3 linked regions of the Homo sapiens genome follow. The protein of the gene in region 2 interacts with the protein of the main gene of each other region in a biochemical or structural test. Each region holds a gene or a part of one and is shown on either strand. Other genes may lie near its edges. The genes, in order: FBXL12, ECSIT and FARSA.

The links.
Region 1: the proteins of ECSIT (region 2) and FBXL12 form a complex in vitro, tested with the Homo sapiens proteins (one study listed by BioGRID).
Region 3: the proteins of ECSIT (region 2) and FARSA form a complex in vitro, tested with the Homo sapiens proteins (one study listed by BioGRID and IntAct).

The regions. Positions count from the first base shown.
Region 1 is NC_000019.10:9,809,754-9,816,172, reverse strand, and holds the end of FBXL12 (F-box/LRR-repeat protein 12), read left to right. Parts: exon of another isoform or gene 1-2,002; coding exon of another isoform or gene 2,003-2,035; intron 2,036-2,898; exon of another isoform or gene 2,899-2,942; intron 2,943-4,455; coding exon 4,456-5,277; 3' UTR 5,278-5,903; downstream 5,904-6,419. UniProt on the Homo sapiens protein: Substrate-recognition component of the SCF (SKP1-CUL1-F-box protein)-type E3 ubiquitin ligase complex.
Region 2 is NC_000019.10:11,505,381-11,512,195, reverse strand, and holds the end of ECSIT (evolutionarily conserved signaling intermediate in Toll pathway, mitochondrial isoform 1 precursor), read left to right. Parts: intron 1-4,147; coding exon 4,148-4,205; intron 4,206-4,345; coding exon 4,346-4,494; intron 4,495-4,633; coding exon 4,634-4,739; intron 4,740-5,767; coding exon 5,768-6,012; 3' UTR 6,013-6,267; downstream 6,268-6,815. Other genes in the region: ZNF653 (zinc finger protein 653), read left to right, coding at 6,410-6,708.
Region 3 is NC_000019.10:12,923,643-12,930,751, reverse strand, and holds part of FARSA (phenylalanine--tRNA ligase alpha subunit), read left to right. Parts: intron 1-2; coding exon 3-140; intron 141-205; exon of another isoform or gene 206-224; coding exon 225-323; intron 324-410; coding exon 411-529; intron 530-1,904; coding exon 1,905-1,997; intron 1,998-2,088; coding exon 2,089-2,217; intron 2,218-2,294; coding exon 2,295-2,410; intron 2,411-5,577; coding exon 5,578-5,662; intron 5,663-5,748; coding exon 5,749-5,848; intron 5,849-5,944; coding exon 5,945-6,113; intron 6,114-6,225; coding exon 6,226-6,303; intron 6,304-6,486; coding exon 6,487-6,601; intron 6,602-7,109.

The sequences.
Region 1 (6,419 bases), 1.7 Mb from region 2:
GCCTGGAAGCCCAGGAGGAAAAAGTGGTTTCCTGGGGGCCCAGGGTCCCTGTGCTATGTTCACCCTGGGACTTGGTGTCCTGTGCCCTAGCTGCTCCAGCTGTAGCTGAAAGGGGCCAACGTATAACTCGGGCTGTGGCTTCAGAGGGTGGAAGCCCCAAGTCTTGGCAGCTTCCACATGGTCTTGAGCCTGCTGGTGCACAGAAGCCAAGAACTGAGGTTCAGGGCCAGGCACAGTGGCTCACGCCTATAATCCCAGCACTTTGGGAGGCCAAGGCAGGCGGATCACTTGAGGTCAGGAGTTCAAGACCAGCCTGGCCAACATGGTGAAACCCCATCTCTACTAAAAATACAACAAATGCGTGGTGGCGCATGCTTGTAATCCCAGCTACTCGGGAGGCTGAGGCAGGAGAATCGCTTGAACCCGGGAGGCAAAGGTTGCAGTGACTCAAGATCGTGCCATTGCATTCCAGCCTGGGTGACAAGAGCGAAACTCCATCTCAAAAAAAAAAAAAAAGAATTGAAGTTTAGGAACCTCTGCCTAGATTTCAGAAGATGTGTGGAAATGCCTGGATGTCCAGGCAAAAGTTTGCTACAGGGGTGGGGCCCTCATGGAGAACCTCTGCTAGGGCAGTGTGGAAGGGAAATGTGGGGTCAGAGCCCCCACACAGAGTCCCTATTGGGTCACTGCCTAGTGGAGCTGTGAGAAGAGGGCCACTGTTCTCCAGACTCCAGAATGGTAGATCCACCCACAGCTTGCACCATGCACCTGGAAAAGCTTCAGACACTCAACACCAGCCTGTGAAAGCAGCTGGGAGGGAGGCTGTACCCTGTAAAGCCACAAGGGGCGGAGCTGGCCAAGACCATGGGAACCCACCTCTTGCATCAGTGTGACCTGGTTGTGAGACCTGGAATCAAAGGAGATAATTTTGGAGCTTTAAAATTTGACTGCCCCACTGGATTTCAGACTTGCATGGGCCCTGTAACCCCTTTGTTTTGGCCAATTTCTCCCATTTGGAATGGCTGCATTTACCCAATACCTGTACTCACATTGTATCTAGGAAGTAACTAGCTAGCTTTTGATTTTATAGGCTCATAGGTGGAAGGGACTTGCCTTGTCTCAGATGAGACTTTGGACTGTGGACTTTTGGGTTAATGCTGAAATGAGTTAAGACTTTGGAAGACTGTTGGGAAGCCATGATTGGTTGTGAAATGTGAAGACATGAGACTTGGAGGGGCCGGGGTGGAATGATATAGTTTGGCTGTGTCCCCACCCAAATCTCAACTTGAATTGTATTTCCCAGAATTCCCATGTGTTGTGAGAGGGACCCAGGGGAAATAATTGAATCTTGGGGGCTGGTCTTTCCCATGCTATTCTCGTGATAGTGAATAAATCTCAAGAGATCTGATGGGTTTATCAGGGGTTTCCATTTTTGCTTTGTTCTCGTTTTCTTAATTTTTTTTTTTTTTTTTTTTTTGAGATGGAGTCTTGCTCTGTTGCCAGGCTGGAGTGCAGTGGTATGATCTCAGCTCACTGCAACCTCTGCCTCCTGGGTTCAAGTGATTCCCCTGCCTCAGCCTCCTGAGAAGCTGGGACTACAGGCACGTGCCACCACACTGAGCTAATTTTTTGTATTTTTTAAATTAATTTATTTATTTTTCTTTGAGTCGGAGTCTTGTTCTGCCACCAGGCTGGAGTGCAGTGGTGCGATCTCAGTTCACTGGAACCTCTGCCTCCCGTGTTCAAGCGATTCTCCTACCTCAGCCTCCTTAGTAGCTGGGACTACAGGCATGCACCACCACACTCGGCTAATTTTTTTTTGTATTTTAGTAGAAACGGGGTTTTGTCATGTTGGCCAGGATGGTCTCAATCTCCTGACCTCGTGATCCGCCCGCATCGGCCTTCCAAAGTGCTGGGATTATGGGCATGAGCCACTGCGCCCGGGCTTCTTTCTCATTTTCTCTTGCTGCCGCCATGTAAGAAGTGCCTTTCACCTCCTGCCATGATTTTGAGGCCTCCCCAGCCATGTGGAACTGTAAGTCCAATTAAACCTCTTTTTCTTCCCAGTCTCAGGTATGTTTTTATCAGCAGCATGAAAATAGACTAATACAGTTTGTATTACATGGGTATATATATGCATGTATAAAAGGCAAATGTAAGCATGCTTTCTGAAGGATTGATGATAAGCTATTTTCTTCAGTGAATGGAAGAGTTTGATGTAGAAACACCTTTTTGGCCGGGTGCAGTGGCTCATGCCTGTAATCCCAGCACTTTGGGAGGCCGAGGTGGACAGATCACTTGAGGTCGGGTGTTTGAGACCAGCCTGACCTACATGGAGAAACCCTGTCTCTACTAAAAATACAAAATTAAGGCCAGGCGCGTGGCTCATGCCTGTAATCCCAGCACCTTGGGAGGCCAAGGTGGTTGGATCACGAGGTCAGGAGATTGAGACCATCCTGGCTAACATGGTGAAACCGCGTCTCTACTAAAAATACAAAAAAAACATAGCCGGGCATGGTGGCATACGCCTGTAGTACCAGCTACTTGGGAGGCTGAAGCAGGAGAATTGCTTGAACCTGGGAGGTGGAGATTGCAGTGAGCCGAGATTGCGCTACTGCACTCCAGCCTGGGCAACAGAGCGAGACTCTGTCTCAAAAAAAAAAAAAAAAATTAGCCGGGCATGGTGGCACATGCCTGTAATCCCAGCTACTCAGGAGGCTAAGGCACGAGAATCGCTTGAACCCAGGAGGCGGAGGTTGCGGTGACTGAGATCGTGCCATTGCACTCCAGCCTGGGCAACAAGCAAAACTCCGTCTCAAAAAAAAAGAAAAGAAAAGAAACACCTTTGTAAGCACACATAAAGAATATGTTATTAGACAATTTTCCTTTTTCCATTAGGCCCTATGATGCCAAGTAGAGAAATCCAGCAATAAAAGGCAGATGTAAGCATGCTAACTTTTTCTTTTTAAGATAAACTGTACTTAGAATGAAATGCCCAGTGCTATCAATTATATATATTTTTTATTTTCTACTAAGTCTAACTTCCCAGGGTTGATTTTTGCAGCTTCCACTCTACCAGGCTTTGATATATTTTTTTTTTTGACATGGAGTTTCGCTCTTGTTGCCCAGGCTGGTGCAACGGCACGATCTTGGCTCATCGCAGCCTCTGCTTCCCAGGTTCAAGTGATTCTCCTGCCTCAGCCTCCCAAGTAGCTGGGATTACAGGCGTGCACCACCACACCTGGCTAATTTTGTATTTTTAGTAGAGACGGGGTTTCTCCATGTTGGTCAGGCTGGTCTTGAACTCCTGACCTCAGGTGATCTGCCCGCCTTGGCCTCCCAAAGTGCTGGGATTACAGGTGTGAGCCACCGTGCCCAGCCTTTTCATTTGTTGTTTTTTTTTTTTTTTTTTTAACATAGACCTAATTTACTCTGGGTAGTTTTCGGCTTTTAAAATTTTATTCTGTGTTGCTTATTTCTACTGGAGGTGATCATTAAGAAAGGGGTAAAATATCAATGGGTTGCTCTGCTCTTTTTCTTAGTCCAGAAAAAACGGTAAAAATTTATTGCTAAAGATAGATTCTGTTAGTATCTTTTTTTCCCCTACCAGATTTATCTTTTTTTTTTTTTTTTTTTTTTTTTGAGACAGAGTCTCACTCTATCGCCCAGGCTGGAGTGCAGTGGTGCGATATCGACTCACTGCAACCTTTGTCTCCTGGGTTCAAGTGATTCTCTTGCCTCAGCCTCTTGAGTAGCTGGGATTACAGGTGCTTGCCACCACGCCCAGCTAATTTTTGTATTTTTAGTAGAAACATGGTTTCACCATGTTGGCCAGGCTGGTATTAAACTCCTGACCTCAAATGATCCATCCACCTCAGCCTCCCAAAGTGCTGGGATTACAGGCATGAGCCACTGTGCCCAGCCCCTACCAGATTTATTCTAAGTGGCCGAGTGCAGTGGCTCACGACTGTAGACCCAGCACTTTGAGGGGCTGAGATGGGAGGATTGCTTGAATCCAGGAGTTGGAGACCAGCCTGGGCAACATAGCAAGACCTCATCTCTACTAAAAATCACAAAAATTAGCTGGGCATGTGTCAGAAGTCCCAGCCACTTGGGAAGCTGAAGTGGGAGAATCACTTGAGCCTAGGAGGTCCAGGCTGCAGTGAGCCATTATCTCACCACTGCACTGTAGACTGGGTGACAGAGCAAGAACCTGTCTCAGAAAAAAAAAAAAAAAAAAAGATTTGTTCAAAGCCCTAGCAGGCAAGATGGTGCACTCAAACCATCTGGTTGAACCTGGGGAGGTTGAACCTGGGGAGGAGACTGGCTAGGCAAGGGCAGAAGCCCAGCAGGGCACCAGAATCCCCCACCCCGGGGTTGTGTGTCTCCAGCCCAGCAGGGGCCTTGGAAGCTCCATACCTCTCACTCTGTCACCCCAATCTCTGGCTCTTACAGATGCGACCTAAAGTCATGTGGCACCTCCTTCGAAGGTACATGGCATCCCGGCTCCATTCCCTGCGGATGGGTGGCTACCTGTTCTCTGGCTCCCAGGCCCCCCAGTTGTCCCCTGCTCTGTTGAGAGCCCTGGGCCAGAAGTGCCCCAACCTGAAGCGCCTCTGCCTGCACGTGGCCGACCTGAGCATGGTGCCCATCACCAGCCTGCCCAGCACCTTGAGGACCCTGGAGCTGCACAGCTGCGAGATCTCCATGGCCTGGCTCCACAAGCAGCAGGACCCCACCGTGCTGCCCCTGCTTGAATGCATCGTGCTGGACCGCGTCCCCGCCTTCCGTGACGAGCACCTGCAGGGCCTGACGCGCTTCCGGGCCTTGCGCTCGCTGGTGCTGGGTGGTACCTACCGTGTGACCGAGACAGGGCTGGATGCTGGCCTGCAGGAGCTCAGCTATCTGCAGAGGCTTGAGGTGCTGGGCTGCACCCTGTCTGCCGACAGCACCCTGCTGGCCATCAGCCGCCACCTCCGAGATGTGCGCAAGATCCGGCTGACCGTGAGGGGCCTCTCTGCCCCTGGCCTGGCTGTGCTGGAGGGAATGCCGGCCCTGGAGAGTCTGTGCCTGCAGGGTCCCCTCGTCACCCCAGAAATGCCCTCCCCCACTGAAATCCTCTCCTCCTGCCTCACTATGCCCAAGCTCAGAGTCCTTGAGCTGCAGGGGCTGGGGTGGGAGGGTCAGGAGGCGGAGAAGATCCTGTGTAAGGGGCTGCCCCACTGTATGGTCATCGTCAGGGCTTGCCCCAAAGAGTCTATGGACTGGTGGATGTAACTACTCCACCTGCCCTTGGGACCCATCCCAGTTTTCATCATTGAGCCCCAGACCCTCTGAGCAGCACCTTGAAGAGGGCAGATAATCAGACTTGAGGAAACTGAAAGCCCCAGGTTGAGAGAACAGAGGCCTAGGGACCTCCAGACCATTGGAATCACTGTTTGCCAGCTGTGTGGCCTTGGTCATATCATCAGCCTCTGGGAAGCCTAGTTCCCACATCTGGAAATAAGGATGATCATAGCTACCTCACGGTTACATTGCAAAGCCTTACTCTAAAAGCTCCCAGCCTCCAGAGGCTCTCAATGAAGAGTCACCTTCATGGTCGTCTTCAGGAACAGGACGGATGAAGAAGGGGTGGGGTTAAGACTCAGGGGCACCTGAGGGTCTGAGCCCCCTTATGAGTACCCAAGAAGGACTGTCTATGCATGCACACCCACAAGCCTATACACCATTTATATACCTACACGCACGCAAGAGACGCGGAGAGATAGGCGATGCAGACTCGCGATTCAATGATCGATATGCTCATAAAAGTGCTCAATTATATTTTCTGTATTTTGTATGCTGTATTTTCCAAGACGTATATTATTTTACTATTAAAGAAAAAAATCATTTTTTTTTCCCGAGAAGTATTCAGTTTATTCATTCAACCAATCTTTCTTGAGCTTCTGCTATTTTGCAGGCACTGTTCTAGGTTCTGGGAAACTGGGCCACCACAGTGAACAAAACTGACAAGACCCTGCCCTCGTAGATCTCATAGAGGAGAAGACAGGACAACAAACAGGTAAGCCAGTCCATGCTTTAGTTTTTTTGTGTGGGGACAGAGTCTCACTCTGTCACCCAGGCTGGAGTGCAGTGGTGCGATCTTGGCTCACTGCAACCTCCGTCTCCCGGGTTCAAGTGATTCTCCTGCCTCAGCCTCCCAAGTAGCTGGGATTACAGGCACCCGCCACCACGCCCAGCTAATTTTTGTATCTTTAGTAGAGATGGGGTTTCACCATGTTGGTCAGGCTGGTCTCAAACTCCTGACCTCGTGATCTGCTCACCTCGGCCTCCCAAAGTGCTGGAATTACAGGTGTGAGCCACTGCGCTCGGCCACCATGTTGTAATTTTGGAGACTCTGAGCCAGTACACCAGGGTCA
Region 2 (6,815 bases):
TTTTTGTATTTCTTGTAGAAATGGGGTTCCACCATGTTGCCCAGGCTGGTCTCAAACTCGTGAGCTCAAGCGATCCACCCACCTTAGCCTCCCAAAGTACTGGGATTGCAAGCATGAGCCACCATGCCTGGCCCCCTCAGACCTTTGTTTGTTTGTTTTTTTTTTGAGATGGAGTCTCGCTCTGTCGCCAGGCTGGAGTGCTGTGGCGCCATCTCAGCTCACTGCAACTCTGACTCCCGGGTTCAAGCGATTCTCCTGCCTCAGCCTCCCAAGTAGCTGGGATTACAGGCATGCACCACCAGGCCCAGCTAATTTTTGTATTTTTAGTAGAAACGGGGTTTTACCATGTTGGCCAGGCTGGTCTTGATCTCCTGACCTCATGATCTGCCCACCTCGGCCTCCCAAAGTGCTGGGATTACACGCGTGAGCCACTGTGCCCGGCCAAGACCTTTTTTATAAGGGGACTAATCTCATTCATGAAGGCAGAGCCCTTATGATCTAAGTGCCTCTCCTCTCAAAGGCCTGACCTCTTAATCCTATTGCATTGTAGATAGATTGCAACATATGAATTTCAGGGGGCCATAAACATTCAGACCATAGCACCCTCCCATCCTTCTCCCAACACTTGCTACATTCTAGGCATCTTCCTTATTTTCTGTGCCAATTCTCACCACAGGGCTTTGCGTTCTCTGTTCCTTCTGCCAGGAACACTGTTCCCCATGGACTTCATGTTATTCCGGTCTCAGCTCCACTGTTCCTAATCAGGATGCCCTTCCTGACCTCCCTGGCCAAGGCACCACCCCTTCACCGTGCTTGGCTTGGTTCCTCATTCACCATGACTCAGTCTCCCTCCTGTCTCCCAAGGCTGAGCACAGGATTTGGTGCAAAGCTGACACTTGGCAGTGGTTTGTTGAATGACTGAGTGGAGTAACACCCTCAACTCAGTGTCCTGGGAGCCCCCACTCATGCCAGATCACACAAGGGATCCAAAGAGAGCCCCTCACAGCACTTGTCATGTGGTCCTGGACAGATAACAGTTTCCTTAAGAGCCAGTGGTTCTGAGATGGAGAAGCCCGGGGTGCTGTGGGAGCCGAGTGGGCAGGTGGGGCTTCCTGGGGGAGGTAAGGAGAGCAGAGGACGCTGGGCAGAGGGAGCAGTGTGTACCAGGAAATGCGGTGCAGTGAGTGGGGGCACCTGATTAAAGAGCTTGATCTCAAACCTCTTGGTTGGTGGGGAGAGCTATGCCGGGGGTGGGGGGGCAGAGATTTAAGAAGAAGGAATCGGGTTGGAATCATGTTTCTGGAAGAATCTGCAATTGGAAACGTGTCTCCTGGCAGCCGTGTGGATGCTGTTGGATGGGGAGAGGGGCTAGGGGACCAGGGTCGTGGGTCCAGGTGAGAGATGGCTTGAGACCAGCAGCAGAATGTGGGGGGGAGGGTTGTTTTTAGTTCATTTCTTCATTTTGCAAAGCAATGCACTAAAAAGCCAAACAGCATGTAAAAGCACACAGTGACGAGTCCTCTGCTTCTACCCAGGCCCCGTGCGCTGCCCCTGACGCCGCCCGTCTCCCTCCCCAGAGGTGACTATTTCCATGTCTCCTTCCAGAGAGGTTCTATACATTTGCAAGCAGATCTCTCTCTCTCTCTCTCTTTTTTTTTTTGGCATCTGTATCCTTTGTATTTAAATATCCTTCTCCCCCGTCTTATGGAGTAAAATACAGCCAGGCACAGTGGCTCATGCCTGTAATCCCAGCACTTTGGGAGGCTGAGGCAGATGGATTGCTTGAGCCCAGGAGTTCGAGACCAGCCTGGGCAACATGGCAAGACCCCATCTCTACCAAAAAAATACGAAAATTAGCTGGGAGTGGTGGTGCACACCTGTAGCCCCAGCTACTCAGGAGGCTGAGGCAGGAGGGTGGCTTGAACTCAGGAAGTCAAGTCTGTAGTGAGCCGTGATCATACCACTGCACACCAGACTGGGTGACAGAGCAAGATCCTGTCTGTTTAAAAAAAAGAAGTTCTTTAGCCAGGCATGGTGGCTTACGCCTGTAATCCCAGCACTTTGGAAGGCCGAGGCAGGCAGATCACCAGAGGTTGGGAGTTCGAGACCAGCCTGACCAACATGGAGAAACCTCGTCTCTACTAAAAATACAAAAAGAATTATCCAGGCATGGTGGTGCATGCCTGTAATCCTAGCTACTTGCGAGGGTGAGGCAGGAGAATCACTTGAACCCAGGAGGTGGAGGTTGCAGTGAGCCGAGATCGCGCCATTGCACTCCAGCCTGGGCAACAAGAGCGAAACTCCATCTCAAAAAAAAAAAAGTTTCTTTAGTAGCAGGGCATTATATACATGTACCTTGCCTTTTACAAATTTCATTTAATACAACTAGAAGTCACTGATCCATCTCAAATTTTTTTGTTGTTTTTTTGAGACAGAGCCTTGCTCTGTCGCCCATGCTGGAGTGCAGTGGCACAATCTCGGCTCACTACAACCTCCTCCTCCCAGGTTCAAGCAATTCTTGTGCCTCAGCCTCCCATGTAGCAGGGACTACAGGCGTGTGCCACCACGCCTGGCTAATTTTTGTATTTCTAGTAGAGACGGGGTTTCACCATGTTGGCCAGGCTGGTCTTGAACTCCTGGCCTCAAGTGATCCACCACCCTCGGCCTCCCAAAGTGCTGGGATTACAGGCATGAGCCACTGCGCCCGGCCTGCTCATCTCAATTTTTTTTAACTTGAAAGGATGAATGATATATGTTCTAATAGCTGTCCACTGTTTTGTTTCAAAAGCAAGTGCATTTTGTTAAAAAAAAAAAAACTTTGTCAGCGGGGCGCAGTGGCTTATGCCTGTAATCCCAATGCTTTGGGAGGCTGAGGCAGGTGGATCACCTGAGGTTGGGAGTTTGAGACCAGCCTGACCAACATGGAGAAACCCTGTCTCTACTAAAAATACAGACATTAGCCAGACGTGGTGGTGCATGCCTGTAATCCCAGCTACTCGGGAGGCTGAGGCAGCAGAATCACTTGAACCCAGGAGGTGGAGGTTGCGGTGAGCTGAGATCAAGCCCCATTGCACTCCAGCCTAGGCAACAAGAGCGAAACTCTGTCCCAAAAAAAAAAAAAAAAAATTGTCTAGTGTTTTTGAATTATGTTCAAGGTATAAAATTTTAAAAGATAAAAAAGGTATTCCTTCCCACCCTGTCCTCCACAGAGGTGAAAGCTATCATTTGCTTCTAGTGTCTCCTTCCTGGGATATTCTGTATATGTGAAGTTATTTTTCTTTTTTTAATTCACAAGCACTGAGCACTTATTATTTGCCAGGGACTGTGCTACATATTTTACAACCACCCAAAGTTAGGTTCATGCCCATAATCCTAGTGCTTTGGGAGGCCAAGGCAGGCGGATCACCTGAGGCCAGGAATTTGAGACCAGCCAGGCCAACATAGCAAAACCCTATCTCTACTAAAAATACAAAAAATTAGCCGGGCATGGTGGCAGGCGCCTGTAGTCCCAGCTACTTGGGAGGCCGACGCAGGAGAATCGCTTGAACCCAGGAGGCGGAGGCTATAGTGAGCCGAGATCATGCCATTGCACTCCAGCCTGGGTAATGAGCAAAACTCCATTTCAAAAATTAAAAAAATAAAATTAGCCAGGCATAGTGGTGTGCACCTGTAGACCCAGCTACTTGGGAGACTGAGGTAGGAAGATCACTTGAGCCCAGGAGTTCAAGGCTACAGTGAGCTATGATCATGCCACCATTCTCCAGCATGGATGACAGAGAGGGAGACCCCCATCCCTAAAAAAAAAAAAAAAATCGGAATTAAGTGCTGTTATCATCCCTATTGTGCATCTGGAGAAACTGAGGCACACAGGTACAGTGACTTGGCCAAGGTCACACAGCTTGTGACAGAGCCAGGATTTTGACAAAGGTGGGCTGGTTCTAGGGTAGTTCCCTCAGGGTGAGCATCCTAAAGATTGGTGGTTATTGCCAAATGGGACAGAGGGAGGAGGGGACAGGTTGGAGGGCCGTGTACCAGATCCAGGAGAGGTGTCCTGAATTCCCTGGTATCCCCCTTTCTGTTTCTCTGTCCCCAGTTCCTCTGTAGGGGATTGGGGGTTACAAGATTATATCCCTACTCTCCCTTGCAGGTTCCTTTGCCCAAAGACTCAACAGGTGCAGCAGATCCCCCCCAGCCCCACATCGTAGGTAAGTCCGAGAGCATGGGGGCAGCCAAGTCTCTAACCTTACCCAGGCCCTGCCAGGTTCTCGCTGGGCCTAGGCTGGGCTCCCTGGGCCTCTGGGCCGAGTCCCTTGCAGGGCACAGGGCATGTATGTCTCCACACCAGGAATCCAGAGTCCCGATCAGCAGGCCGCCCTGGCCCGCCACAATCCAGCCCGGCCTGTCTTTGTTGAGGGCCCCTTCTCCCTGTGGCTCCGCAACAAGTGTGTGTATTACCACATCCTCAGAGCTGACTTGCTGCCCCCGGAGGAGAGGGTGAGGGCTTAAAGCAAAGCATGTGTTGGGGCTGGGGAGTGGGCTGGCACTACCCTGAGGGTGCATGGGAGAGGCTGGAGGAGGGAGACCGAGAGAGCCCTGGCCTCTGACCCCGCCTGCACTCCCCACCTTGGAGTAGGAAGTGGAAGAGACGCCGGAGGAGTGGAACCTCTACTACCCGATGCAGCTGGACCTGGAGTATGTGAGGAGTGGCTGGGACAACTACGAGTTTGACATCAATGAAGGTAAAAACTGGGCCAGGTGCGGTGGCTCACATGTGTGCTCGTAATCCCAGCCCTCCTACAGGCTGAGGTGGGAGGATCACTTGAGCCCAGGAGTTGAGGTTGCAGTGAACTATTATAGAGCCACTGCACTCCAGCCTACATGATAGACCCTGTGTCAAAAAAAAAAAAAAAAAAGGCAAAAACCTGGACAGGCAGGACTTCCAAACATTCCAAACACCACCCAGGATGAGGGGCGGCCTCTGGGGTCAAGGGGTAGGCCCAGGCTGAGACGCAGTCCACTTACACCCTCGTCCTCCGGCCGCACACACTCATTTGCCCCAGGGGCTCCAGACCTGAGGTCACCCAGCCCTGTTGGCCCTTGTTCATTCCCTCCCTCCTACAACTCTGTGCTGGCTACTGGGTGTCACCAGGACAAACCTAGTCCCTCGAGTCAGCAAGGGAACAGGCAAATTACACTTTGGGGAGCTTAGGAGAGGAGCATGCCTTGAGTGGGGGGTCAGGAGGCCTTCCTGGCAGAATACAGAAAAACCAGGAGTCATCGCCCGGGTGAAGTGTGGAGTGGGCAGCCTAGGCAGCGGGGCTAGCTTGTGCAAAGGTTTGGAGGCACAAGAAAGTGGAAGGAAGCCGGGCACAGTGGCTCACGCCTGTAATCCCAGCACTCTGGGAGGCTGAGGCGGGTAGATCATTTGAGGTCAGGAATTCGAGACCAGCCTGGCCAACATGGTGAAACCCCATCTCTACTAAAAATTTAAAAATTAGCCCGGCGTGGTGCTGTGCACCTGTAATCCCAGCTCCTCGGGAGGCCGAGGCAGGAGAATCACTTGAACCTGGGAGGCGGATGTTGCAGTGAGCCGAGATCTCGCCACTGCACTCCAGCCTGGGTGACACAGCGAGACTCCGTCTCAAAAAAAAAAAAAAAAAAAAAAAGGAAGTGGAAGGGAGTGTAAAATACCTCAAAAAGGTGTAGGCATGGGTTAGCCGCTGCAGCCCCCACTGTGCAAACCTTAAGGGTGCATGTCTTCCAACAGTGGAGGAAGGCCCTGTCTTCGCCATGTGCATGGCGGGTGCTCATGACCAGGCGACGATGGCTAAGTGGATCCAGGGCCTGCAGGAGACCAACCCAACCCTGGCCCAGATCCCCGTGGTCTTCCGCCTCGCCGGGTCCACCCGGGAGCTCCAGACATCCTCTGCAGGGCTGGAGGAGCCGCCCCTGCCCGAGGACCACCAGGAAGAAGACGACAACCTGCAGCGACAGCAGCAGGGCCAGAGCTAGTCTGAGCCGGCGCGAGGGCACGGGCTGTGGCCCGAGGAGGCGGTGGACTGAAGGCATGAGATGCCCTTTGAGTGTACAGCAAATCAATGTTTTCCTGCTTGGGGCTCTCTTCCCTCATCTCTAGCAGTATGGCATCCCCTCCCCAGGATCTCGGGCTGCCAGCGATGGGCAGGCGAGACCCCTCCAGAATCTGCAGGCGCCTCTGGTTCTCCGAATTCAAATAAAAAGGGGCGGGAGCGCTGTTGGTTGTGCGCATGCGCAGTTTCCATTCTTGGTCTCCTTTTGGCGCCCTGGGGCAGCGAGAGACCGTGAGAAATTTCTCGGCGGCGCCGAAGATGCGCGCCACTTCCGGTCTGGCTCCTAACAACGGGGGAGGCTGGTAACCAGGGTGGGGGGGATGGCGGAGCGGGCGCTAGAGCCCGAGGCGGAGGCGGAGGCTGAGGCGGGCGCGGGCGGGGAGGCAGCAGCCGAGGAGGGCGCAGCGGGCCGAAAGGCGCGGGGCCGGCCGCGACTCACGGAGTCGGACCGGGCCCGGCGACGGCTCGAGTCCCGGAAGAAGTACGACGTGCGGCGCGTGTACCTGGGCGAGGCGCACGGGCCCTGGGTGGACCTGCGGCGCCGCAGCGGCTGGAGCGACGCCAAGCTCGCCGCCTACCTCATCTCTCTGGAGCGCGGCCAGCGGAGCGGCCGCCACGGGTGAGGGGGCCTGGCCCCGAGGGAGGGAGGGAGGAGACGCCCCCAGACCCCGCCGGGCTTTACCCCGCCCCCTCCGCTTCTAGGGCCAGCCCCCGGCACCTGCGGAC
Region 3 (7,109 bases), 1.4 Mb from region 2:
AGGTCATCGAGGCTGAACTTCGGTCCACCAAGCACTGGGAGCTTACTGCGGAGGGCGAGGAGATTGCCCGGGAGGGCAGCCATGAGGCCCGTGTGTTTCGAAGCATTCCCCCAGAGGGCCTGGCCCAGAGCGAGCTTATGGTAGGAGCTGCGGGGTGAATGGGGAGTGAGTGATGGGATGAAGGTGGCCCTCGTGCCCCACTCACTGCAGCCTCTCTTTTCCAGCGACTGCCCAGTGGCAAAGTGGGCTTCAGCAAGGCCATGTCCAACAAGTGGATTCGGGTGGACAAGAGTGCGGCTGACGGGCCCCGGGTGTTCCGAGTGGTGCGTTCCTGCGGGCTGGTCAGGGGGCAGGTGGACGGGCACATGGGCCCCTGGCCCTCATACCCCTCACACTCCTTATCCTGGCAGGTGGACAGCATGGAGGATGAGGTGCAGCGGCGGCTCCAGCTGGTCCGGGGGGGACAGGCTGAGAAGCTGGGGGAGAAGGAGAGGAGCGAGCTGAGGAAGAGGAAGCTGTTGGCTGAAGTGTGAGTGGGTGCCCCCTGCAGGCTCAGGCCCCCACCACCTGCGAAGCATGGTGGAGGCATGGTGGGAGGGAGACATCTTGCCCACACCAAGCACAGGTGTGGCCAGTTTCCTCCCAGCTCGCTTAATGCCATAGTTGTCAAGCCTACGTGCCTTGGGGTCTTTGCCCATGAGGACCCTTCTGCTGAGAACTGTTTTCCCTCTGATCTTCAAGATAGGCTCCTCATCAAGTCTCTCTCCTGTGTCCCCTTAAAGAGGCCACCCTGACAGCCCTCCTCTCCCCTTGAGTTCCATGAAGCCCATCGCCCCTAGTCTTCATCTTTGGTGCTTGTTCATTTCTTTCACTGTCCTTAGTGTGGTCCAAAGTTTAATGAACACACACCAGACAGGCCTCTGGAACCTAGATGGGCTAGGGGCCGTCCTCTCACAGGACAAATGTCCCCTTTGAGCAGACACAGAGTGGCAGAGAGAAGAGACTAGAGCTGGGATGCCTAACTGAAGTTCGGGCTCTGTCACTTAACTAGTTTTATGACCTTGGCCAAGTCACCTGGCCTTTGCTGGTCTCCGTTTCCTTATCTATAAAATAGCCTGGGCCAAGTGTGTGGCTCACGTGTGTAATCCCAGCTACTCAGGAGGCTGAAGTGTTAGGATCACTTGAATCCATGAATTCAAGGCCAGCCTGGGCAACATAGAGAGACCCCCATCTCAAAGAAAAAGGGGCCAGGCACGATGGCTCATGCCTGTAATCCCAGCACTTTGGGAGGCCGAGGCGGGCAAATCACCTGAGGTCAGGAGTTCGAGACCAGCCTGGCCAACATGGTGAAACCTCGTCTTTACTGAAAATACAAAACTTAGCCGGGTGTGGTGGCGGGTGCCTGTAATCCCAGCTACTCTGGAGGCTGAGGCAGGAGAATCGCTTGAATCTGGGAGGTGGAGGATGCAGTGAGCTGAGACCGTGCCATTGCACTCTAGCCTAGGCAACAAGAGCAAAACTCTGTCTCAAAAAAGGAAAACAAACAAACAAATAAAAAAAACTGCCCTCTTTCCGGGGCTTGTGGGGAGACTTTTGCAGAACAGAGCCTGGCACAGAATAAATCTGCTAGACTTTCCCTAGTATCATCACTCAGTCGTGTACTTAGCACCTTGAACAGACCCTGGCACACATTAGGTTCTCAGTAAGTGTTGAATGAATCAGTGAGTGAATACAGGGAGATACAGCATGGTCACATAGGAGGATTTCAGGTAGTGATAAATGTCAGGATGGAAATAAAGCAGAGTGACTTGGTAGGTAGCATGGGGATCCTCATCAGACGGGAGATCAAGGAAGTCCTCTAGGAGGAGATGGCAGTGGCGTCCCCTTCCTTCCCCTGGCCACAGGACTCTGAAGACCTACTGGGTGAGCAAAGGCAGTGCCTTTAGTACCAGCATCTCCAAGCAAGAGACAGAGCTGAGCCCAGAGATGATCTCCAGGTAGCAGGCAACCCCAGGGTCAGGGCAGGTGGGAGCTGGGGCAGGGGGCAGGGGCGGGCAGCCCTTACCAGGCCCTTGCATCCTCCCCCAGTGGCTCTTGGCGGGACCGGCCCTTCAAGCCCTACAACTTCTTGGCCCACGGTGTCCTCCCCGACAGCGGCCACCTTCACCCGCTGCTCAAGGTCCGCTCCCAGTTCCGACAGATCTTCCTGGAGATGGGGTGAGCACAGGGCTGGGGGCGGTGCCTGGTGCTTCTGCTGGGTACAGGCAGGGCAGTCAGGCTGTGTCTCCCACCAGGTTCACCGAGATGCCGACTGATAACTTCATTGAGAGCTCCTTCTGGAACTTTGACGCCCTCTTCCAGCCCCAGCAGCACCCAGCCCGTGACCAGCACGACACCTTCTTCCTTCGAGGTGGGTCAGCCCCTAGGGCCTCCCTGAGACATGAGAGACACCAGGCCACGGCGGAGCCTTTACAGGATGGGCATCCCATTTGATCAAATTAGGTCTAGAACTGGGCATGGTGGTGTGCACCTGTAGTCCGGCTATTTGGGAGGCCAAGGCAGGAGGATTGCATGAGCCCAGGAGTTCAAATCCAGCTCAGGCAACATAGGGAAGAATCTACCTCTAAAAAAATTAATTGAGTTAAATTAAAGTCCATCCTTGTTGGATGTGTCAAGCTCTGTTCTCATTATGCCACCTGCAGTCTTTTTTTTTTTTTTTTTTTTTTTTGAGACAGGGTCTCACTCTGTCGCCCAAGCTGGAGTGTGCAGTGGCATGATCTTGGCTCGCTGCAAACTTTGCCTCCCAGGTTCAAGCGATTCTCCTGCCTCAGCCTCCCGAGTAGCTGGGATTACAGGTGCATACCACCATGCCCAGCTAATTTTTGTATTTTTAGTAGAGATGGAGTTTTGCCATGTTGGCCAGGGTGGTCTCAAACTCCAGTCTGCCTCGGCCTCCCAAAGTGCTGGGATTACAGGCGTGAGCCACCGCACCTGGCTTTTTTTTTTTTTTTTTTTTTTTTTTGAGACAGTCTCATTCTGTCGCCCAAGCTAGAGTGCAGTGGCACGATCTCAGCTCACTGCAATTTCCACCTCCTGGGTTCAAGCGATTCTCCTGCCTCAGCCTCCTGAGTAGCTGGGATTACAGGCACCCGCCACCACGCTCGGCTAATTTTTGTGTTTTTAATAGAGATGGGGTTTGCCATGTTGGCCAGGCTGGTCTGGAACTCCTGACCTCAAGTGATACTCCCGCCTCAGCCTCCCAAAGTGCTAGGATTACAGGCGTGAGCACCACGCCTAGCCCAAAATTAATGAATTTTTGTTTTGTTTTGTTCTCACTATGTTGCCCAGGCTGGTCTCAAACTCCTGATCTCAAACAGTTTTGCCTCAGCCTCCCAAAGTGCTGGGATTACAGGCATGAGCCCCCACACCCTGCCTGCCCCCATGTCTTCTTTGGGCATTCCAGGCCGTGCACACCTCAGGGCCTTTGCTTATGTTCCGTCTTTAGCCAAGAGCTGTTTTCTCCCAGATCTTCAAGGCAGGCTGCAGCCTCAAATCTCTGCTCACGTGTCACCAGAGACAGGCCAGCCTAACACTCCCGGGCTCACCCCGAGTTCTACAGAAGCCCTTCTCCCCTAGTGTTCATTCTTCTGTCCCATTTCTTTCTTTCATTGCCCTTAGCACTGTCTGAAATGGAATGACTTCCCACAATGGGGTGGCCTTCCTGACCAAGAGGGCAGTTGAGGTCATTGGGTGCCGGCTTACCTGGCCAGAGGAGCAACATCATTCTTGTCATTATTGTCATAGCACCCAAAACTTACTAAGCACTCATCACATACTAGCCACTATTCTAATCTTCCTGCCAACTACTGGAAGCAGTACTGTTACCCCTTTTTACAAAGAAGGAAACTTGGCCAGCCTCAGTGGGTATAATCCCACTGTTTGGGAGGGCAAGGGAGGAGGATCGCTTGAGCCCAGGAGTTTGAGAACAGCCTAAGCAACATAGAAAGACCCATCTGTACAAATAAAATTAGCTGGGCATAGTAGTGCACGCCTGTAGTTGCAGCTACTCGGGAGGCTGAGGTGAAGGATTGCTTGAGCCTGGGAGTTTGAGGCTGCAGTGAGCTATGATTGCATCACTGCACTGCAGGCCAAGCAACAGAGCAAGACTTTGTCTCTTTAGGCCGGGCGCGGTGGCTCACGCCTGTAATCCCAGCACTTTGGGAGGCTGAGACGGGCGGATCGCGAGGTCAGGAGATCAAGACCATCCTGGATAACACAGTGAAACCCCGTCTCTACCAAAAATACAAAAACAATTAGCCAGGCATAGTGGCGGGCGCCTGTAGTCCCAGCTACTCGGGAGGCTGAGGCAGGAGAATGGTGTGAACCCTGGAGGCGGAGCTGGCAGTTAGCCGAGATCATGCCACTGCACTCCAGCCTGGGTGACTGAGCGAGACTCCGTCTAAAAAAAAAAAAAATTTTGTCCCTTTAAAAAAAAAAAATAGGCCGGGCGCGGTGGCTCACGCCTGTAATTCCAGCACTTTGGGAGGCCACGGTGGGTGGATCGAGACCATCCTGGCCAACATGGTGAAATCCCATCTCTACTAAAAATACAAAAATTAGCTGGGCATGGTGGCGTGTGCCTGTAGTCCCATCTATTCAGGAGGCTGAGGCAGGAGAATCACTCGAACCTGGGAGGCAGAGGTTGCAGTGAGCCGAGATCGCGCCACTGCACTCCAGCCTGGGCGACAGAGCGAGACTCCGTCTCAAAAAAAAAGAAAAAATAAAAAGGTCGGGCGCGGTGGCATGATCCCAGCACTTTGGGAGGCCCAGGCAGGCGGATCACTTGAAGTCAGGAGTTCGAGACCAGCCTGGCCAACATGGTGAAACCCCACGTCTACCAAATATAAAAAATTAGCTGTGTGTGGTGGTGCACTTCTGTAATCCCAGCTACTTGGGAGGCTGAGGCAGGAGAATTGCTTGAACCTGGGAGGAGGAGGTTGCAGTGAGCCAAGATCATGCCACTGCACTCCAGCCTGGGCAACAGAGCAAGACTCCATCTCAAAATACATACATACATACGTACATACATAAATAAAGCCCAGGTGCAGTGGCTCATGCCTGTAATCCCAACACTGGGAGGCCGAGGTGGGTGGATCACCTGAGATCAGGAGTTCGAGACCACCCTGACCAACATGGCGAAACCCCATCTCTACTAAAAATACAAAAATTTCCCGGGTGTGGTGGCAGGCACCTGTAATCCCAGCTACTTGGGAGGCTGAATCAGGAGAATTGCTTGAACTTGGGAGGTGGAGGTTGCAGTGAGCCAAGATTGAGCCATTGTACTTCAGCTGGGCCAACTGAACAAGACTCTGTCTCAAAAAAAAAGAACCCAAAAAAGCCACACACAAATGAGAAAACTGAGGCACGAGAATCACTTGAACCTGGGAGGCAGAGGTTGCAGTAAGCCCAGATTGCACCACCGCACTCCAGCCTGGACAACAGTGAGACCCTGTCTGAAAAAAAAAAAGGGGTGGGAAATGCTCGTTGACTGACCTGATGTTGCTCTGTCCTGCCCAGATCCAGCGGAGGCCCTGCAGCTCCCAATGGACTATGTCCAGCGGGTCAAGCGGACCCACTCTCAGGGCGGCTACGGCTCACAGGGGTGAGGCAGGACTTACCTGGTATGGAAGGGAAGGAGGCTGGGGACCCCTGGGCCATTGCATGGACTTCCCACCTTCCCTCCTGAAGGTACAAGTATAACTGGAAGCTGGACGAGGCCCGGAAAAACCTACTGCGAACCCACACCACATCAGCCAGCGCCCGTGCGCTCTACCGCCTTGCCCAGAAGGTGCGGTTGGCCCAGGCGGGGGCCCCAGTGGGGAGAGGGTGCTGTCAAAGGGACCTTCTGACCCATACCTGGGCCTGGCTCGGTTGTCACCCCTAGAAGCCCTTCACTCCGGTCAAGTACTTCTCCATCGACCGCGTATTCCGGAATGAGACCCTGGACGCCACGCACCTGGCTGAGTTCCACCAGATCGAGGGCGTGGTGGCGGATCATGGTCTCACCTTGGGCCACCTCATGGGCGTTCTGCGGGAGTTCTTCACCAAGCTGGGTGAGCAGGGGGGCAGGGGTGGGCCATGGTGGTGAGGCAGCGGGCAGGTGTGTTGATCACCAGCATTATCCTCCAAACCCCTGCTCTCCTGCCCGCCCCCCACTTCCTGCAGGTATCACGCAACTCCGCTTCAAGCCAGCCTACAACCCATACACAGAGCCCAGCATGGAGGTGTTCAGCTACCACCAAGGTCAGGGTAGGCCCTGGTACTGGGGTGGGAGGGAGGTCTCAGGCTACTATGGTTTGGCCTGGGTCCCCCCATTGCCATGCCTGTACCCCACCTCCCAAGCTCACCACCTAGACCCAGAACCTGTACCAGCAGTGCCCAGAAACTCAACACGCACTGCCCGTCTTTTCTGTCCTGCCTCTGCAGGCCTGAAGAAGTGGGTGGAGGTCGGAAACTCGGGGGTCTTCCGTCCAGAGATGCTGCTGCCCATGGGGCTTCCCGAGAACGTGTCGGTCATTGCCTGGGGCCTCTCCCTGGAGCGGTAAGTGCCCAAGTGGAAACTCGGGGTGTCCAGCTGCCTCAAATAACTCTCCAGGTATAGGGGCCTGCGTGGTTTCAGCACCACCCATTCATTCATCCAATGGACAAAACTTTCATCGTGAGTACAAACTGAATGCTCAGCCCCGTGCTGTGAACATGACAGCTTATGTCCCTCCCTCTGAATCTGGGGTCCCAGTGGAGCGAGAAGGATGATAACTAGCAAGACCAACAAGTACATCAGGCCAGGCGTGGTAGCTCATGCCTGTCATCCCAGTGCTGTGGGAGGCCAAGGCAGGAGGATCGCCTGAGCCAGGAGTTTGAGATCAGCCTGGGCAATAGAGCAAGTCTCCGCCTCTACAAAGAATAAAAACAGGCCAGGCGTGGTGGCACATGCCTGTAATCCAAGCACTGTGGGTGGCTGAAGCAGGTGCATCACCTGAGGACAGGAGTTCGAGGCCAGCCTGGCCAACATGGCGAAACCTCATCTCTACTAAAAATATAAAAATTAG